Homo sapiens: one gene and its partners. The protein of the gene in region 1 binds, or shares a complex with, the protein of each later gene. Each region holds a gene or a part of one and is shown in the gene's direction. Other genes may lie near its edges.

What was found. The genes of interacting proteins can lie anywhere in the genome.
Region 2: the proteins of BCCIP (region 1) and TENT5C are in contact, whole or in part, in a cryo-EM structure (PDB 8EQB), measured with the Homo sapiens proteins. Residues at the interface, in NP_510868.1 of Homo sapiens: Val57, Asn58, Ile59, Glu60, Phe61, Glu62, Ala63, Tyr64, Ser65, Arg136, Gln146, Cys153, Lys155, Ala204, Gly205; in NP_060179.2 of Homo sapiens: Asp90 (codon at 103), Asp92 (codon at 109), Glu102 (codon at 139), Gln106 (codon at 151), Arg109 (codon at 160), Lys135 (codon at 238), Glu136 (codon at 241), Val139 (codon at 250), Gln140 (codon at 253), Lys141 (codon at 256), Leu142 (codon at 259), Val143 (codon at 262), Lys144 (codon at 265), Val145 (codon at 268), Cys146 (codon at 271), Thr147 (codon at 274), Asn164 (codon at 325).
Region 3: the proteins of BCCIP (region 1) and TENT5A are in contact, whole or in part, in a crystal structure (PDB 8EXE), measured with the Homo sapiens proteins. Residues at the interface, in NP_510868.1 of Homo sapiens: Val57, Asn58, Ile59, Glu60, Phe61, Glu62, Ala63, Tyr64, Ser65, Leu66, Gln146, Val149, Leu150, Phe152, Cys153, Glu154, Lys155, Asn156, Cys157, Glu158, Lys159, Glu163, Lys167, Leu203, Ala204, Ala206, Thr225; in NP_060103.2 of Homo sapiens: Arg87 (codon at 4,755), Gly88 (codon at 4,758), Asp139 (codon at 4,911), Glu151 (codon at 4,947), Gln155 (codon at 4,959), Lys158 (codon at 4,968), Lys184 (codon at 5,046), Glu185 (codon at 6,167), Val188 (codon at 6,176), Gln189 (codon at 6,179), Lys190 (codon at 6,182), Met191 (codon at 6,185), Val192 (codon at 6,188), Lys193 (codon at 6,191), Val194 (codon at 6,194), Cys195 (codon at 6,197), Asn196 (codon at 6,200), Asp199 (codon at 6,209), Trp201 (codon at 6,215), Asn213 (codon at 6,251), Arg289 (codon at 6,479), Lys295 (codon at 6,497), Glu331 (codon at 6,605), Arg334 (codon at 6,614), Gln341 (codon at 6,635), Asn342 (codon at 6,638), His343 (codon at 6,641).

What each region holds. Positions count from the first base shown.
Region 1 is NC_000010.11:125,819,046-125,826,568, forward strand, and holds the start of BCCIP (BRCA2 and CDKN1A-interacting protein), read left to right. Parts: upstream 1-4,500; 5' UTR 4,501-4,512; coding exon 4,513-4,677; intron 4,678-7,523. UniProt on the Homo sapiens protein: During interphase, required for microtubule organizing and anchoring activities. During mitosis, required for the organization and stabilization of the spindle pole.
Region 2 is NC_000001.11:117,623,034-117,628,900, forward strand, and holds the end of TENT5C (terminal nucleotidyltransferase 5C), read left to right. Parts: coding exon 1-1,011; 3' UTR 1,012-5,356; downstream 5,357-5,867. UniProt on the Homo sapiens protein: Catalyzes the transfer of one adenosine molecule from an ATP to an mRNA poly(A) tail bearing a 3'-OH terminal group and enhances mRNA stability and gene expression.
Region 3 is NC_000006.12:81,749,671-81,756,637, reverse strand, and holds the start of TENT5A (terminal nucleotidyltransferase 5A), read left to right. Parts: upstream 1-3,956; 5' UTR 3,957-4,207; intron 4,208-4,459; 5' UTR 4,460-4,496; coding exon 4,497-5,048; intron 5,049-6,166; coding exon 6,167-6,943; 3' UTR 6,944-6,967.

The sequences.
Region 1 (7,523 bases):
GCAATCTCAACTCACTGCAACCTCCGCCTCCCGGGTTCAAGCGATTCTCCTGCCTCAGCCTCCTGAGTAGCTGGGACTACAGGCATGCGCCACCATGCCCAGCTAATTTTTGTATTTTAGTAGAGATGGGGTTTCAGCATGTTGGCCAGGATGGTCTCCATCTCTTAACCTCGTGATCCGGCTGCCTTGGCTTCCCAAAGTGTTGAGATTACAGGTGTGAGCCACTGCACCCGGCCTAAAGTTTTTTAAAATAAACTTCCACTCCTGCTCTGAAGCTTGCCTCGGTCACTTTTTCTGCCTTATGCCCCCAGTTGAATTTTCTTCTGAGGAGACAAGATTGAGGTTGCTGCAGGTGTCTACTGATTTGCCACTGGTAACATATTTGGTGCCACGTGACTCAGATGGTAAGGGATCTCTATGCCTCGCTTTCTTCTGCTGGAGGCATCTGATCCCTGTGCAGTTTTTCTTCTCCTCCCTCTCTCCTGCTTACTAAACAACCCCCAGAACAATTCCTCTTGGCCATACGTGACTCTGCTCTCTGCCAGTTGATTTCTTAGCTCACTCTGGTGGGTGGCTCATGGGAGTGGGAAGGACCCTAGGGTCTGCATCAAGCAGATCAGAGGCACTATATGGCCCTCCTTGATAGGAGGCTTGAGACTGGTGAGGCTAGGGCCTAAAAACCGTGCAGTGTCTGGGGTTTCCTCTGCCTTTTTTTCCAATGAAAATAACGAAACCTGTTATTTCCCATTGAGGGGGAAAAAGGCGGGAGAAGCCCCAGCAGAAATGAAGCTGCTCCTGAAGCTTCCAACATGAAACTCACCTCGGCACTGGTAAAAAGAGGGCTCAACCTGTCTCTAGATTTACAGTCTAATGCTTGCTCTGCCATTTTACCCTCATACTTATGTTCATCAATCATTGATGAAAAAGAAAAGAAAAAAAAAATGACTGGAATAAGGGCACCTTACTGGTAAGAAAGAACCAAACCTCAAACCCGTACCTTCTATGTCATGGTGTTCTGGGTATCAGCAATAACAACAGTCACCCTTTTACTGAGCATTTACTCATGTTAATTACTGGGTGTATTAGAGTTCTTCAGAGAAACAGAACCAATGGCATATATTTACATCTAGAAAGGGATTTGTTATAAGGTATTAGCTCATGCAGTTATGGAGGCTGAGAAGTCCCATGATCTGCTGTCTGCAAGCTGGAGACTTGTTAGCAGGAAGGCTGGTGTTGTAGCCTGAAGGCCTGAGAGCCAAGGGTGTAGGTTCCAGCCTGAGTGTGAAGGCCTCAGCACCAGGAGCACCAAGGGCAGAAGATATCCCAGATCAAGCATGCAGGAGGAGACAGGACACATTCTTCCTTCTTTGGCTTTTTGTTCTATTTAGGCCCTCAACAGACTGGATGCTGCCCACCTACTTTGGGGAGGGCAATCCACTTTACTCAGTCTATCCATTCAAATGCTCATCTTTTCTGAAAACAACTTCACAGACACACCAAGAAATAATGTTTAACCAGATATCTGGGCATCCGTGATCCAGTCAAGATGACATGTAAAAGTAACTATCACACTGGGCTAAGCATTTTACATGCAAGACTGCAATCCTCACTTAAACCTGCAAGGTAGGTGGTGTTAGCCTTATTTGCAGGAGGTGAAACCAAGTCCCTGGGAGGTTTGAGTAACTTGTCCCAGGTCACACAGCACAGTAAGTGGGAGAGATGGAATTTGGATCCTGGTCTGAAGCCCATGCTCAGTCTCCTAACCACTTGCTACCATCCCTCTGCCTCATTAAGATAAATTCTGAGCTAAAGATGAACACTGAACGAGTGGTAAGCAATCTACTACCTGCTGAGTTCAGTTCCCTAGGGTCAGTACTGTATTTACTTTCACATTCACTATTCTAATTCACACTTTGACCATGAGCTCAACACTGGGAACTAATCTGAGGGCATAAAGTAAGGCTTTTTCCCCTACTTGTCTTACAAAAGTGATCCTGTTTACTGTGAAAGATTTGCAAACTACAAAAAAGTATAGTTCCTCAAAAAAATAAACATAGAATTACCATATGATCTAGCAATTCCCCTGCTACATATATACCCCAAAGAATTGAAAGCAGGGACTCGAACAGATATTTGATACTCATGTTCATAGCAACATTATTTACAACAGCTAAAATGTAGAAGTAACCAAAATGTTTACCGACAGATAAGTAGATAAACAAAATGTGGTCTATACATGCAATGGAGTATTATTCAGCCTTAACAAGGAAGGAAATCCTAATGCATGCTACAGCATGGGATAAACTTTGAAGACATCATGCTGAATGAAATAGTCACAAAAGGAAGAATATTGTGTTACTCCACTTACATGAGGTTTCTAGAATAGTCAAATTAATAAAGATGGAAAGTAGAAAGGTCATGGAGGGAAAATAAGGGAGTTGTTTAACTACAGTTTCAATTTTGCTAGATGAAAAGAGTTCTGCCAATGGATAGTGGTGGTGATGGTTGCACAATGTGAATGCACTTCATGCCACTGAACTGTATCTTTAAAAATAGTTAAGATGGTAAAATGTATGTTATGTATCTTTTACCACCATAAAAAAAGTATAAAGAAACAGGAAAAAAAATTGGCTATGGTATCTCAGTGCAACTCTGTTGATATGTTCACATGGTCTTTCTGAGTCTTTTTTCTAATCTTAGCCTTTTGATGGGTCTTTTTTGACAGCTTCCTCTCTTCTCCATTACAGGAACATGTTTTTGCAGTTGTGCGACCCAAAGAGGCCATTTCAAGCTGCCCCATCAGATGTGGAGCGCTGATGTGTAAGTATTACTTTAATATCCATGACATGGCTGGGTAGACAAGAGACTCCCAGGAAAGACCGAAATCACAGAACACGATTATGGGCAATCTGGGCTCCTGGGGACCTTTAGGGCACGCCATCTCGTACTGATGAAGGATCACTGATTTATCAGATGTTACCCTGCTTAAACAGAAGCAGCCTATTAGCGCAGCTCACACCATTCCTAGAATCAAACATATCCAACCCACCCCCCTCATTTTACAGAGAAAAATCAATTGAGAACCGCAGATCTTATTCCTAGAAAGCTGATGAACCCTGTTTCTCTCGCAATGGGAAGACCTGGCTGCCCCAGGCTGCATCCCCACCTGCCACAGGGGCTGGCGCTCGCTCTGCAGTTGGCCGCAGTCCCCTCCACTCTTCTCTCCAAATAGGCTCGGGTCTTTAACCTAGACTACCCCACTGGCCCCGAAGCATTTTTTTTTTTTTTTAGATAGGGTCTACCTCTGTCGCCCAGGCTGGAGTGTGGAGTGCGGTGGCGCGATCTCGGCTCACTGCAACCTCCGTCTCCTGGGGGCATGCGATTCTCCTGCCTTAGCCTCCTGAGTAGCTGGGACTACAGGCGCGCACCACCACACCTGGCTAGTTTTTGTATTTTTAGTAGAGATGGGATTTCGCCATGTTGGGCAGGCTGGTCTCGAACTCCTGACCTCAAGTGATCCACCCATCTCGGCCTCCCAAAGTGCTGGGATTACAGGTGTCCGCCACCACGCCCGGCTAATTTTTGTACTTTTAGCAGAGATGAGGTTTTGCCATGTTGGCCAGGCTGGTCTCGAACTCCTGACCTCTGGTGATCCACCCGCTTTGACCTCCCTAAGTGCTGGGATTACAGGCGCGAGACACCGGGCCCGGCCCCCCGCCGAAGCATTTTTAACTGCGGTGCCGGCTTTAAAAAAACTTTTAGGTCAAGAAATGCGCTCCAGAAGCTCGGCGAGGGTAGGCTGGGCAGGCGCCTTCCGTCACCGGCGCAGCGGTAGCGGCAGCGGACATCCCCGCCTGGGCAGGCCCAGGTCCGCGGAAGCCTCGGGGCCCTGGCCCCACTGTGTCACACACCGCCCGGGGCCGGGCCCCTGCACGCCCGCGGGCTTCGGCGTCCGTACCGGTACAGCGGGCGGCGACACCTACCTCGCGGGACCGTGCCCAGCACCCGGCCTGGCACACAGCGGGCACCCGGTCGGGGGGCGGTGTCGCGCAGTCCCAGCGAAAAGGCTGCAGGAGCAATGACAACAGGGGCGGAAGCCCCCTCCCCACGCAGCCCGAGGGGCCGCGGCGGCCACCCGCGCCGGGCCCCAGGACCCCGCACCTCAGACTGGGGTCGCGTGGGTGGCTGCGCGCAGCTAGGCGCTCGCGCATGCGCACCGCCATCCAGGCCACGGAATGAGGCCAGAGGTTAGATGGGTTGAACCACTACGGGAAGGGGAGGGGAAGCTTTGGGAGGAGTGATGGAGGGTGGAAAGCGGAAGAAAAAAGCAAGATGGGACCGCAAGCTGGACGTGACTGTAAGGGGTCATGGCTGCGGAATCCAGCAGGGGCATTGGGGTTGACGTGCACTCAGCGCCGAGCTTCTTCGTAGTTCCTCACCCCCTTGGCTACTATGGGCTGGTCCGGAAGGTCAGGCAAGGGGAAGCTGCGCAGGCGCAGTGTGAGCGGCAACATGGCGTCCAGGTCTAAGCGGCGTGCCGTGGAAAGTGGGGTTCCGCAGCCGCCGGATCCCCCAGTCCAGCGCGACGAGGAAGAGGAAAAAGAAGTCGAAAATGAGGATGAAGACGATGATGACAGTGACAAGGAAAAGGATGAAGAGGACGAGGTCATTGACGAGGTGAGAAGGACACGCTCCCCTAGTTGGTTTATACCTGAGAAAAACTTTTTGGCAAGCCCAGGCTGTGTAAAAATAGTGTAGGGTCTTCCCTGACCCTGAGGGTCTGTGAGGAGAAACTGGAGATAAGTTCTTTCTCAGGTTTCTCCTCGGTCTTTAACACACTGCAGCCATAGTAGTTATTTTTTAAAGGTCTAGTCCGGTCCAGTTAATCTCCCAACCCGCGTCCTCCCCGAAAAAGCCCGCCACAACAGGTGTGTTCTTCTCGTCCTCTTTAGTTCTCAGGCTGAAGCCTCAGATCCTGAATCGGCCACCCCGGGCTCGCAGAGGGGGCCCTCTCCCCTCGGGGCAGCAGCTGTCCTCCTCTTCACTCTGCGGGCGGCACTCACTTGGGCCCTCAGTTTCTTGAAGGCTCTTGCCGCGTTCTACCGTAGAAGCCTTTTCAAATGCTCTTCTTTATCCTGCAGTTTTCCCTTCCTTCTTCAGATCTCAGCTAGGCTGTATTTTCTGGCTCCTGGGGCAGCTGACCAAGTCGTGGGTAAATCTTTGGTTTCATAGTCTCATAGAACTGTGTTCCTTTCTTCAGACTAGGTCCTACCGTAGTGCCTGGCAATATAGGTACTTATTATTTGTTTAGTAAACAATTAGGACTGAATGATCCTTCAGCCTACTGAATGTTTAAATAGATACCTCAGCCTTAACTTGTCCAAAGCAGAATTTGTATAATAATTCATGCCCCTCTCTTAATCGTCACCATTTCTATAAATGGCCCCTAAAGTCACCAGCTGCTCTAACCCAAAACCTGGGGCTTAACTTTAATTCCTCCCTTTCCTCATCCTATATCCAGCCCATCAGTAAATCCTGTTATCCAGACATTTCTCAGCACTAATTCTGAGACCATCGTAGTCCACACCTCTATCATCTCTTGCCTGGACTACTATTTAATGTAACAGCTTTTAACCGGCGTTCTTTTCTCCATTTTTGTTCCCCTACAATCAGTCTATACTCCACTTACAGTCAGAGAGATCTTATAGGTCTGATCTCAGGCCTCTGCTTAGATTGCTGCATTGGCTTTCTAGTTCATTTACAAGAAAATCAAGAGTCTTCACAATTGAGGGACGGAAAGGCAGCCTAGATGGCTGGATCAGAATAAGGAAGAGAGAGTGATAGGAAATAAAATCAGAGAGGTAATCATGAGTCATGATGAGCATGGAGGGGAGCATGGAGAGAAGCATGGATGCAGGATTAGAGGTGACACCATGGTGTGGGTATGTGATCAATCTTCCTTCCCTTACAAATTTTACTTTGGCTCTATGCCTTGAATGCCATCTCACCATTTTTCACTTAGAACTTTGACTGGCTCTTTTATTACTTTTGGGTTATAGAAATCAATGCTGCTTGTGTTAACATGGGAAATCTATCACACCACCACAGTCTTAATTCTAAATCACCTGGGAATGAGGGACAGGGCTCTTTTCTACAAACGTGACTGTTCCTGCTGAAGCCATGTGGAGATGAGCCCATACCCAGGAAAAGGGTGCTGGACAGATAATCCATTTGCCGCCCATTTCCCTGGTGGTGCCATAATAGTCTGGGACAGAGGTCCGAGATGTCTGTCTAGACAAAGAAAAAAACACTAGATGAGCATTATTTACAGAATGTATTTATATCTAAGGAATAAGTTTAAGTCCTGAATAATGACAGTTTGTTATTTGGTTTAGTTTGATCCTGTTTGGAACACTCCCACCCGACCCCTTGTGTTTTGCTGCTCACATAATCTGGCTAAGTTAGCATTTGAAGTCTGCAAAGCTGGACTTAAAGAGTTCAAATTGGAGCTGGAATTGCTCTAAGCAATTCCAGGGCCTTGCAATTTTACAATTAAGGAAGACTTAAATATATACATAGTCAGGGTGGCAAGGTAAAAGGAGGTCTGATTTCCTCTGCGATGTTCTTCAGCTAAGACCTAAATTCTGAAACCGTTAAAACCTGAAGTGCCTTTAAATATATTATTTCATCAGAGCCCCAGGTTCATTGTGTCACTTATCAAGGTCTGATTTAGGGTCCTCAAGGACTAATCTTGTTAGTGTTTAAAAGCAACTAGGTTTTGTTTTTGGCATTTTAGTTCCATCTTCTAGATTCTGTTGTCTTGCAGATAGAGATCAGGGAGCCCAGCTACACATTCATTCTTCTAGTCCCTTGTACTCATTGTATTTCCTTCTGCCTTAGGGCCTTAGTTTGTGCTGTTCCCTGTACCAGGAACTCTCTTTGCTGTTTCTCGGTTTCTTGCTCAAATGTCACTTCAAGGAAGGCTTTCCTGACTGACTTCTTATTTTTTAAGTTGTTACAACATTGTGTACCTTTGTTTTATAGCACTTACATTTATTTCTATGAATATTTCCTTAATGCCTATATTCCTTCCTAAATCGTAAGCTGCACGAGAGCAGGATCATTTGTGTCTGCCTTACTAACCTTTTCATCTTGAGTGCCTGGCACAGTGCTTGGTACCTGGATTGATACTTAATAAATATTTGCTAAGCAAATGTAGTGTAACCTCAAATCCATGGGCTAAGTCAAGCTCTAGGCAATTCCAGGGACTTTTGAAGTGATTTTGATTTTTGCCCACCCTTGTAATCAGGAAAATAATTTATCCTTTGTGGCTGCCGTGTCTGGTTTATTTGAACTGGACTTTCTCAACATTTAAACTAGGTTACTCTGAGTGTTTTGTTTTCTCAGGCTTTTGTGTCACCTGAAGAAATAGTGTGAAGGTGCTTTGTATTCTTCACAGATGGCAATCTTGGCAATGTTTGCCTGTTTTAAAGTCTAGATGTTTGTAGTTTTTCTGGTAACAA
Region 2 (5,867 bases), on another chromosome or scaffold:
CGCAGTCGGCTGGAGGAGGCAGGCATCAAAGTGCACGACGTCCGGCTGAATGGCTCCGCAGCTGGCCACGTTTTGGTCAAAGACAATGGCTTGGGCTGCAAAGACCTGGACCTAATCTTCCATGTGGCTCTTCCAACAGAGGCAGAATTTCAGCTGGTTAGAGATGTGGTTCTGTGTTCCCTTCTGAACTTCCTGCCAGAGGGTGTGAACAAGCTCAAAATCAGTCCAGTCACTCTGAAGGAGGCATATGTGCAGAAGCTAGTGAAGGTTTGCACGGACACTGACCGCTGGAGCCTGATCTCCCTCTCCAACAAGAACGGGAAGAACGTGGAGCTGAAGTTTGTCGACTCCATTCGGCGTCAGTTTGAGTTCAGTGTGGACTCTTTCCAAATCATCCTGGATTCTTTGCTTTTCTTCTATGACTGTTCCAATAATCCCATCTCTGAGCACTTCCACCCCACCGTGATTGGGGAGAGCATGTACGGGGACTTTGAGGAAGCTTTTGACCATCTGCAGAACAGACTGATCGCCACCAAGAACCCAGAAGAAATCAGAGGCGGGGGACTTCTCAAGTACAGCAACCTTCTTGTGCGGGACTTCAGGCCCACAGACCAGGAAGAAATCAAAACTCTAGAGCGCTACATGTGCTCCAGGTTCTTCATCGACTTCCCGGACATCCTTGAACAGCAGAGGAAGTTGGAGACTTACCTTCAAAACCACTTCGCTGAAGAAGAGAGAAGCAAGTACGACTACCTCATGATCCTTCGCAGGGTGGTGAACGAGAGCACCGTGTGTCTCATGGGGCATGAACGCAGGCAGACTCTGAACCTCATCTCCCTCCTGGCCTTGCGTGTGCTGGCGGAACAAAACATCATCCCCAGTGCCACCAACGTCACCTGTTACTACCAGCCGGCCCCTTACGTCAGTGATGGCAACTTCAGCAACTACTACGTTGCCCATCCTCCAGTCACCTACAGCCAGCCTTACCCTACCTGGCTGCCCTGTAACTAACCTTGAGACCTGAGGGTTTCCACAGTGGGAACCCCAATAGGGCTAGGGCTCTCAGGTAGGGGAGCCTCCTTCTAGATGTAGGCATTTGGCTTTTAAAGGGGAACTCAGCTCTGATTCTGCTTTTTTTTTTTTTTTTCCTTTGTGTACCCATTGGAATGGGTCTACAGTGTATCATGAGCCAACCCTCAAAGGACCCGTATTACAGTGCCACGTTGGAAAACGCTACAGGAAGCATGACCTATCCACATCTTTCCAAGATAGACACTAACATGTCATGTCCCAAACATTAGCACGTGGGGGTTGAGCTCTGTGCAGTAATCGAGATTGGGAGAATTTGGGCAGCGCGTGAGAAGTGCTAAGCTACTTGTTTTCTCACTTGAGCCCGGGTAGGCTGTGTTGGCCCTCACTTGGGATTCTCAGCAGTTACATGAAAGTTGTGCTGATAATCTCTTCTCTTGTACCAATTTTAGTCAGGCAGAAAATGGTAAACATGAGGGTGCTCTTGTGACTTAATTTTTGTTCAAGGGACTAAATTGCTTATGTTTATTCCCTGTCAGCGGAGTGGAGAATGTCATTCATCAATAAACCAAAGCCAATAGCTGGAGAATTGAGATCTGGTTGAAAGTGGTTTATGGTTTACATGCTGTACTATCCTGAGGAATTGCGAGATATTGCTGAGGGGAAAAAAAAATGACCTTTTCTTGAAATGTAACTTGAAAACAAAATAAAATGTGGAACATAATGTTTAATTAGAATTGTGGTGGTGGTAGTGGAAGGGGATAATTGTAAATAGGAAACATGAATGTTCATTTTTTTCTTTAAAGAATTCTTATTAAATGGCTCCCTGCCTTTTTTTTCTTTTTTCCTCATCAGCTCTTTCATGGCTGAATTTTGTTTTATTCTTCCTAAGACTGAGGATTGTGCTGAGTCCAGAGTCATTGTGGTAACTGACATGAGGGTCTTCCCATGTTTTAACTGGAAACCCACTTTGGTCACATTCCAAGTATGACACAGCTGTTCTTCTGGAGTACTTTAGCTATTTTTTGTTTTTGTTCTTTTCGTTTTTTTTTTTTCCAAAAATAGTGACTTCCTTCTCCAGGTGTGTTTGACAGCAACTCAATTCAGGAATTTCGGTAGAACTGAGTGACCTGTGGAACTGCTTTAGAATCTAACCTGCTGTCTTCGTGCTCTGTGTGAAGGGGAAGCTGGGGGGTTAGCATGAAGTCTGGCCTTGTGTGCATTGGAGCTTCCAAGGCACTTTGAAATCATTCCAGTATATTTGGGAAGAATTGAGTGAATGAGAATGCTCTTCCTTATTCTGGTAGATTTGACTTGTTTATAATTCTGCACTTTAGAAGAAAAACAGTGTTAATCTGTAGTTGAAAGAAAGCTTAGTAGATGAGAGAGTTCTAGGCTACTGTGGCTTTTTCCAGTAGATTTAGATGAGATTATGTGTTTTGAAATGTTTTGTGGGATCCCTTAGAAAGCATCACTTCAGGGCAGAGACACTCAATATTGCCAGCCAGCTTGGGTTCTAAAGTGATTTAATCAAATTCATGCTCCTGATCTTTTTTTTCCCCCTTCCTTTGGCTATGAAAACCCAAAGCCCGGAGTGATTGTTTTCTCCTTGCTTTAAGCAGTGAAGTTATCCTAATGCAAAAGAGCTTAGTAGAAAATGAGTGGTTTACCTTTTTTTCTAAAAGTATATTTTCAAGTTTATTCTGGAATGTGATGTCTTGGTCCTCTTAAAAGCAGATCAGCCATGACTGAAACTCAAGGCTTAGCTGGTATCTATGTTGTGCTACATTAGGTGACTAGAAGCCACTTCTTAGTGTAATCAGCTCCTGTTTCCCTGTGAGCCTTAGTTATATTTTAATTCAGTGGCTTTGAGTCAAGGCCGGTTCTAATTGAGGGGACCCAGTGTGCTTCAGTGTTAAGAGTGGGGCAATGAAGAGTGAACCCCAATGAAGAGTGATCCCAACTTTGGAAACTATCTGGTCATTCATGACCTTAAAAAGCTGCCATGGTGGTCAAATGGCATGTGTTTGCACAAAAATGACCGATGTGTTTAACCAAAGCTTTGAAATGTGATGAAGCCACCAACATAAGCACTTGCCTAACAGAAATCAGTATTTCTTCTACTTAGAAGGCTTGGGGCCCAGGGTAATGAGGCACCAGATGAAGATAAGATCTGCATCAAGGAATTAAATTTCCAGTTTGTCCTTGGGGTTCTTTCTGCTTATGTTTTTTCCCCCCCATCTGGTAATAGTCCTCTTCTGAGAATGAAAGGAGGCACAGAAGTTGCGAGAAAGACCCAGTCCCCAGTCTTTGCCACCATTGCACCATGGTTGTCTCGGAGTCCCTTCACCTGACCTTTTTAGTCAGCTCAGATCTTTTTGTAGTTTGAGAATAGACCTATTCAAGAGCTATCAGGGTTAAAAGCTGCACTGACCAAAGCTGTACTTTTAAAACACAACCCCTGGGCTAGTGATGTCTCTACTTGCTCTATGAGCCTTTTGCCAGCCTCAGAATAGGCGAGGTAACCTTGAATTTCAGGGCCCTGGAAACTCTAGCTGAAACCTGCCTTTCCTAATGCTCACACAAGCACCAGGTACCCTGAGCTTATACTGAGTCCAGTGGTTCCTATTTTATGTGTGTGTGTATGTGTGTGTGTTGAGTAACATGAAACTTGGCAGTAGCAGAGAGCACTGAAGTTCACATGCAAGTTCTAATCTAAAGTTAAGCAGTCTCTTATTTGTTTCGGGACTCTGATTTGACTCTTTTTCTGATGCTTTCGGCATGTCTGCAGCCTGTTCTCCTAGCCTGCTGCTTGGAGTCAGGTTGAGCATCAGTGAGATGAAGACAGTACCTTTTCCTCTCACATTGGCAGAATAGCACGCACTAGATGCCTGACCTTGAGCTCTAGTCTCCCCTTTAAATCTTACCTTGGCAGTAACACATTATTCCTCATTCAATAATTTCAATGCTGAAACTGAACTCTATTACTAATGCCTTCCAATCAGAGTTCCTGATGGGGATGCCTGTGGGATGGCCCACACCTGGGGGACCTGGCAGATGGGGTGAGTTGGGTAAGGAAGATGATGCTTAGTTCCTGATAGATGCTACAGATGTAGTTTGGCATTTCAGTTTTTGTCCAGTTTGATTTTCACTGGGGTTTGAGTCACAGCAAGCTGTGTATGAACTTGTGTTTTGTGGTGACACATTAATAATCAAATTGCTAAAACCCTGAATCTGCTTATTCTTCAGCTTCACCTCTGCACTAACCCCTTACCCTTATGGTACGTCAGGATTTTAACTAGTACTGCTTTGTTGACTTTGGGAAATGGTGCCACTCAAAAGCAACTTCCTAACTTGAGGAATAACTCCTTTGTAGTTTACTTTCTGGTACTGGTTGGTGCCTTGTATTGGGATACAGCTATATTCTTAGCTCAAATGTCCTCTTTTTGAGAGCAAAGTAGTTATCCAATGGTGAGACGAGACCCTGACGCTCATAGAGGCCATTCCTTCCTGGGTGTCGGACCAGGGCTCTGTGTCAGGGAAAACCTTCTGGGTGGACTTTGTAAGAATCCAGTTTCCAAGGTTAGATTCACATCCTTAATCTTGCAGAGACTAGAATTTCACAGCTCGCTTTGGAACATATTCCAATTCAACCAGTTAAAATCAGAGGACCAAGTCGTGGGGGAGGGGGGCGGTGTTGAGGAGAGGTATTTTTAAAGATCTGGCAACTTTTCAGGATTATTTGTGGAGAACTCTAAGGTTAAGATCAGGAAATAAAAGACTGTGTGTGTGTGTGTGTGTGCGTGTGTGTGTTCAAGTGCCTAAATCTTGTTTACCTATCACTTTAAAAAAATAATTGAAGTGTAAGCTAAATAAAATGCTTGGAGTTTTGCCTGGGCTAGTGAGAGTTGGTGCAAATTCTTGTGTGTGTTTGCATAGGAAGGTGAGATGACCATCTACTAAAGAGGAAGTAGCTAAATACAGATCTGTGGGTGTTTTTAAAAAAACTCAACCTATCTGGTGTTTTATTTTAATGGATAAAAATGTAATTTTTCTAAGGTAGCAACTTATTTCCAAATTAATATAGATGAAAAATAGATACCAATTAGACTAAATTGAAAGCTTTTTGTTCTATATTTGCATAGCCTTTGAAATATTTCTTAGTGCCTAGGAGGTCTGGGGATTCCTCTTTCGTGGTGGTCACTAACCTTACTTGATGCAGATAAAATCACTTGTCAATGCAAAATGTGTTAGAACTTGATAAAGCTTTGAGTTTGAGAAATAAAGGTATATTTAAAATTTAAATAAAACTTGTCATTTATGCTCATTGATTTGTTTCTTCTCAATGATGAATTTTAGGTTTTAGGAAACATTGAATAGAAATAGGAAGCTGTCAACATCAGCCTTGGATGCTTCTCTGAAGGACAGATGCTTTTTTGAGGGGGGAGGGCTGTGTGGTTACCTTGGAGACCACAAATCCCTTAATATTTGGGCTCTTTTTCAAGGTGCCCAGCTAACTTAAACTAGGCTTCGTTGTTGACCACAGCCTTTCAGCTAATACCCACGGCAGGTGTAGTCTTGCAGTTCGCCTTTGCTGGCACCTTGTTTAATTCAGTCCCTTTAGCTCCTAGCCCACTTCAACAACAACAAAGAAAACAACTTCAGCCATACATGTACAACTACTGTAGTTTCTTCACATTTTTAAAGAAGTATAGAAGTGAACAAGTGATACTTGGAGTGGTTGATAGATGTTTGAAGGGTATAAAGAGATGCTGTAGACTTTGGTTAGCAACCTTCCTCCTCATTCCTTTGATCTAATTCACAACAACCCCTGCCCA
Region 3 (6,967 bases), on another chromosome or scaffold:
GTCTGAACCAAGGCTCTGTGATTTCTCTAAGTTACTTAACCTTCTTATGCCCTATCTTTCCTATGGAGATATAATGTGTACAGCTCTGGTTTTTAGAGAAAGTTTAGAAAAAATAATGTATATAAAATATTTAGCAGAGTTTCTGGGATATAATAACAAACTCAATAATAATAACTATCATTAAGGCCGAAGCTGAACATCTTATTTTGCTAAGTCCAGATTGATTGTTACTGTAACTTTAAAAATAAGATGAACTAATTATAAGTGTTTCTTTCTCAAAATTCTATGCAAAGCTTTCCTTTAAAACTTTCAGGATAAGGACTTTTTTTCTGCTCGCTTAGAAAGCAGTTTAAATTTAGGCTGTCCGTATTTCAGTTTTGTGGTGGTCTTAACTTTATCAACTAAGAGCTTCATATTGCCACAGGTGTTTTTTTTTTTCCTTTTAAGTGGGAGAAAGTAAATAATTTATCAAATAGGTTCAGAAGCTAAAGCCTGGGGGAAAAATTTAGCAACTTTGCATCTAAATTTAATCTAAGAGTAACTGTGTTGAGAAATATCTTAGTTGTGAATGTATTTGGAAAGTATAGGCGTTCTCATTTCATAATTATTTTGGTTATCTAGAAAAAAATTATGGTTTCAATAGCAGAATATGCAATTTTATTTAAGGATGGATATTTTTTCCTAGAATGTAAATATTATTTCAGTTTGAAGACAGGAAAAAGTGGGACAGTGAACAACATATGCTTTCATTCAACAGTATGTAATGATTGGTCACTATGTATCAGGCACATATTAATCCAGTCAAAGATTAAATTGCCCACAAAGGCATTGCCAAAAGTAAGATATCCCAGATGTCCCAATGCAGGAGGCAGTAGGGTCTGGATTATGGTTGGGAAAGGGGGAATGTTTTGTTAAAGGTTTAAGGAAGTGTCAGCCACAAAGCATTGGATGCTTGGGGGAGAGGCGGTCTTGGCACACTGCTGCTGGGATTATCTTCTTCTCCCCAGCACAGCATATAGCACGTAAGCGGGCCCTGCAAGTCCAGCTTCATGCTGTGCTTCCACCTCTCAGTTGTGCCCTCCATTTCTGGGAATGGCCATGGGATCAGCCTTTGCTTGGGGGAGGGTCCCCACTTAGAGAACTGGACTATGGTGGCTGTTCTCAGTGCAGCGCAAAGTGTGGCTGGGCCCTTGTGTCAGGATCACCATGACAGCTTGCCAAAATGCAGATTCCTTTGGTGCTACAGAACGAAATCCTGGGTATGCATAGGCAGGTGTCCATCAGCTCTAAGAGTCTTCTTTATTTTCAGTTTTTGGAGCAAGGGTAAAAATAAAGTACAAAATAATTGTAGTAGAGCTAAACACACACACATGCACACACCCTTGGTTTTTAAAGTACAGCGTGTCTAATATACGATCTATTACTTTGGCTTTGTTTTAAGAAGGGGCAGAATTCATACCGGTCTTTGAAAGAAACATTTTTAACAGGTCTTTTTTCTTTTCTTTTTCTTTTCTCTTCTCTTTTCTTCTTTACTCTTCTCTTCCCCCCCTTTTCTTTTCTTTTTCCCTTCCCTTCCCCTCCCTTCCTCCATTTCCTTTTCTTCTTTTCCCCCTCCCCTTCCCTCCCCTCCCCATCGTTCCTTCTTCCTATTTGTGCTTGTCTTGTTTTCCAATAAGAAGGTACTGATAAGCTACAGACCACTCGTTACCCCGTAATGACCACTAAACAGCATTCACAGCCAAATGGGTTGGGTTAAAGGCCTGACCCCACAACTTATTAGTTGTGGAACTTGGGAATGTTTCTTAACTTCTTGGATTCCTCTGTTTCTAGATCCCTAGGAGATGGAAATACCTTCTTCTTGAAGATTAAATTAGGTATTATGTTAAGGAGCTAAACAGGTTATAGCCCAGACGTGTTCAATAAGTTCCTGGTACTCATAAACCTTATCTCAAGGCACTACCAATCTCATTTATTAATCACGGGAGTGTACATATCCTTCCTCAAACATTCTCCAACTCCATACGCTTCCCTTTGTAGATAACGCTCTTCTCCTCTTTCCCCGACTACTGAAAGAACATCCATTCTTTCAAGATCCAGTCCAAATGACACCTTCTCGGGTGTCTCTCCGTTTCCTATGTAGTTAGCCCGCCACGCGATTGCGTCAGAATATACTTCTCTCATAATACATATGCAACTGAACCATAATTATGCACCTAGGTGCTATGCCCTCTAGATTACGTGAAATGTCATTCTTAAATCTTCAGCACTTAGCCTGTTGCCTGGCACGTAACAGGTCACTAAATGCTCTCTCTATACACATGCTCACACAAGAATATGCATATGTATATATATGTATAAAATGCCTGGTTAAGATAGATTCATGCGCCGATGGCTGGTCAGAGGAACACATGGGTGTGCTCTGAAGGAAGCGATGGCCCTATGCGGACAGGGTAGTTGTCCTAGAGTCCCCAGGCGCACCTCAGTGCTTAGGCGCAGCGCTGAGGGGATGGCCTCTGCCACAGAGACAGTCGGATTTCTCCATTTTGGGACGCAGCTCGGCAGGGCACCGGGAGGGGGCGGCGTTGTCACGCAGCTGGATGCTCCACGGGTGACACCCCCGCACCCTACCCCTCACCCCCGAGCCGCGCAGCTTGAGTGACTAGGCCGGGGCTCCCCCAGTTAGGAGGTGCGGGCTGTTTTTCCTCCCAGTCTGGGCGGGCAGGGCTGAGCAGGGTTTGGGGAGTATTCTGTGACCCTGGCATTCTCCCCTCTGCCCCACCTCAGCCCCCGGCAGCGTCTAGGCGCTGGGAAAGCTGCTCCGGGTTAGTTGATGGAGGCAGCGAGCTGCCGAAGAGACGGCCACAGCTTTCTAGCAAAGAGTGGTGGTGGCGCGAGTGAGCGTGCGTAGAATTAGCTCTGCCGAAGTCACCGAAGCTGGAGGAGAGAATTCATTTTATTCTTGAAACTCCTACTTTTACGTCTCGTGGAAAACCAAATCGTATTCCACTGACACTATGATGCACTTAAAATGGCCAAACTTTAGGGGGCCGCGAGGAACGCGCTTCGCCGCCTCCAATTTTGTCAGAGAACTCGCAGCAAAGGCACCGGACACCTAGCGGCCCTTTCCCTGGACTCCGGGGCAGCACGCACTCCCCGGGCGCGCTCTCTGCGCCCACTCGGCCCGCCCAGTCCTCGGCCATTGGCTGCTCGCCCGCGTCTGCTCCGTGACGCGCCCTGACCCCCGCGAAGTACTGGCCCCTTGGAGCCACTCGTGCGCAGGAGCCGCGCACGCCCGAGGCCCGTGGTGCCGCCCCCGCGCCTTCTCGGGCTCGCCCAGAGCTCCCCGGCGCGCTTCCCGAGGTTTCGAGAATCGAAACCCAGTTATCAACAAGCCCTTCCCACTCACGCGCCGTGACTGATTTGCGTGCAAGAGTGGACTCATGAGTCCACACTTGGATCGGGTTTATCAATGGAGTAAATGGTCTACCTAAAAACCGAGGTTTAAAAGAGCGGTCGTGAGGAACCTCCGGAGCCCAACCGTGATGATCTAAAGACGGGCTGAGTCCGCGAGAATTTTGGGAAGTTTCTGCAGTTGCAGGATTTTAGTCGTGATCTGGTTTTGATGACCACTTATGATTCCTGGGGCATTTAAAGTGTCTCCTCCTGGGGAAAATGAAAAGAGATTTGTGGGAGGGGGCGTACATAAATTAAATGTATGTATAAATACACGCATCTACGGGCGCACACAGTATCCGCACATACAGCCCAGGACCTCACGCTCACCGGCAGTCGTCCCGCACTAACTGCTGGGCTAGTCAGCTGCGTGCCCTGCGGGCGGGGGAGGGCAGAGGGGGCGGCGCCCTATGCAGATGAGGAGGGTGTGGCGAACGTGCCGCTCTGGGCCCCGGAAGCGCAGAGAAGCCCGGTATAAAAAAAGTACTGAAGACATTTTCCCCGCACAACTGCTAAAGCTCCAGAGACACGAGCGTGTGTGGCAGCAAGAGCCGCCAGTTCGGGACCACCGCAGCTGGGGTGGCAGCGGCGCAGGAGGGGTCGCGGGGAGGGAGTGGTGAGCGCAGGCGGCAGGGGTCTGGGAAAGACGAAGTCGCTATTTGCTGTCTGAGCGCGCTCGCAGCTCCTGGAAGTGTTGCCGCCTCTCGGTTTCGCTCTCGCTCGCTGCGCTCCTAGAAGGGGCGGCCGCCTCCAGGTGACACAGACGGGACTCTCGCTTGCGCTTTCCAGATGCATCAGAGATACTTTTGGTGCGGGGCTGCTCTGCGGGGCGCGGTGCGCGGCTGGGGACTGTAAGGGCCGGGGGAGGGAGTCTCCGAGGAGGCCCGGGGTCAGGGAACTATCGGGGGAGGGGGCGCTCTTTTCCTGGCGGGCCTCTGCTCTCCGCCGCCGCGCGTGCTCTCCGCCGCCGCGCGTCCTCACCGCGCTCCTTTCCCTTTCTTTTTAGGACTGACCAGGGCCAAGTGGCGCTCGGCGGGCACTACATGGCGGAGGGTGAAGGGTACTTCGCCATGTCTGAGGACGAGCTGGCCTGCAGCCCCTACATCCCCCTAGGCGGCGACTTCGGCGGCGGCGACTTCGGCGGCGGCGACTTCGGCGGCGGCGACTTCGGCGGTGGCGGCAGCTTCGGTGGGCATTGCTTGGACTATTGCGAAAGCCCTACGGCGCACTGCAATGTGCTGAACTGGGAGCAAGTGCAGCGGCTGGACGGCATCCTGAGCGAGACCATTCCGATTCACGGGCGCGGCAACTTCCCCACGCTCGAGCTGCAGCCGAGCCTGATCGTGAAGGTGGTGCGGCGGCGCCTGGCCGAGAAGCGCATTGGCGTCCGCGACGTGCGCCTCAACGGCTCGGCAGCCAGCCATGTCCTGCACCAGGACAGCGGCCTGGGCTACAAGGACCTGGACCTCATCTTCTGCGCCGACCTGCGCGGGGAAGGGGAGTTTCAGACTGTGAAGGACGTCGTGCTGGACTGCCTGTTGGACTTCTTACCCGAGGGGGTGAACAAAGAGAAGATCACACCACTCACGCTCAAGGTAACACCACCCGAGATGCACTTGGGTCCTGACCCAGTCTGGGCCGGGTGTGACGGGGAGCGGGCAGAGGGGCATCGGTTAAATGCCATGAATCTGTGGCCATCACGAGTTTGGGCGCGCGTTATTTCTTTGATTTTTGATTTTTTAAACCAGTAAACTGACGTGCGTGGACGGTGTTGAGTGTTTCAGTTTACTTGATGCTTTGGCGCTACAACTCTTCTCCCAGGTCCTCCTCTGCCCTCTCTTCTCTTCTTTCTCCTTATGTTTTAACTCTTGGCTTTCCCTGTTGGAGTCTTGTCCAGAGTAGATTCTGATACTTGGCAGAATGAAATGATGTAAATAATTTTTGAGTCATTATATTTGAGTCTAGCCTTTGGGAAAATAACAGCCTGAAGCAGAAGTGAGTCAATGAGTTTTTTATTGTACTGGAAAAGGTGAATAGATTTCACAGCGGCATTCAGCTGACTACGTGTTAAAGGTCTATCTGGTGGTTCTTCGTGCTGGTTCATATGTTAAGGGTATAGTGGCACCCCCTCCCCACCCTCCACTTTAGTTCAAGACGGGTTTTATATGATTAGTTAAAATTGTCTGAGGAGGCAGGCTCCTGGAATGTCATAATTTAGTTTATATTTGATTGTAACTGCAGGGTGCCCCTGGAGGGACACACAAGATACTGATAACATTGATTGCCGCAGGCGGAGAGGAATTGGGTGGCTTGGAACAAGGGCGAGAGGCTGACTAACCTACCGCTGAATGCCCTTCCGAGTCTTTTGAATGTTGTTTGGATACTGTGTGAATATTGTGCCTATTAGACCGTTTTCAAAAAGTAACACTTAAAAAGTCAGACATGACAACAAAACCTCTTACTACTGTGCTACGTCTGCCAAAAGCCTCAAACTATTACCTCTAGTCCCTTTCCCAGACAGTAAAACTACTCGTTAAAAGTATTTTTTTTCTATTTTCAGAAGACCGTTTAAGCCTGTAGGTAGTGTTTGGCTGAAACTTGACAAAACAAAAGGGAAAGAGCAAAATAATTCTCAGCTGTGAAGAGGATGTATTTATTTATTGATTTATTATTTTCTAGGTTTGCTCATTTTGTTTTATCTTTTAAATTGTAGGAAGCTTATGTGCAGAAAATGGTTAAAGTGTGCAATGACTCTGACCGATGGAGTCTTATATCCCTGTCAAACAACAGTGGCAAAAATGTGGAACTGAAATTTGTGGATTCCCTCCGGAGGCAGTTTGAATTCAGTGTAGATTCTTTTCAAATCAAATTAGACTCTCTTCTGCTCTTTTATGAATGTTCAGAGAACCCAATGACTGAGACATTTCACCCCACAATAATCGGGGAGAGCGTCTATGGCGATTTCCAGGAAGCCTTTGATCACCTTTGTAACAAGATCATTGCCACCAGGAACCCAGAGGAAATCCGAGGGGGAGGCCTGCTTAAGTACTGCAACCTCTTGGTGAGGGGCTTTAGGCCCGCCTCTGATGAAATCAAGACCCTTCAAAGGTATATGTGTTCCAGGTTTTTCATCGACTTCTCAGACATTGGAGAGCAGCAGAGAAAACTGGAGTCCTATTTGCAGAACCACTTTGTGGGATTGGAAGACCGCAAGTATGAGTATCTCATGACCCTTCATGGAGTGGTAAATGAGAGCACAGTGTGCCTGATGGGACATGAAAGAAGACAGACTTTAAACCTTATCACCATGCTGGCTATCCGGGTGTTAGCTGACCAAAATGTCATTCCTAATGTGGCTAATGTCACTTGCTATTACCAGCCAGCCCCCTATGTAGCAGATGCCAACTTTAGCAATTACTACATTGCACAGGTTCAGCCAGTATTCACGTGCCAGCAACAGACCTACTCCACTTGGCTACCCTGCAATTAAGAATCATTTAAAAATGTCCTGTGG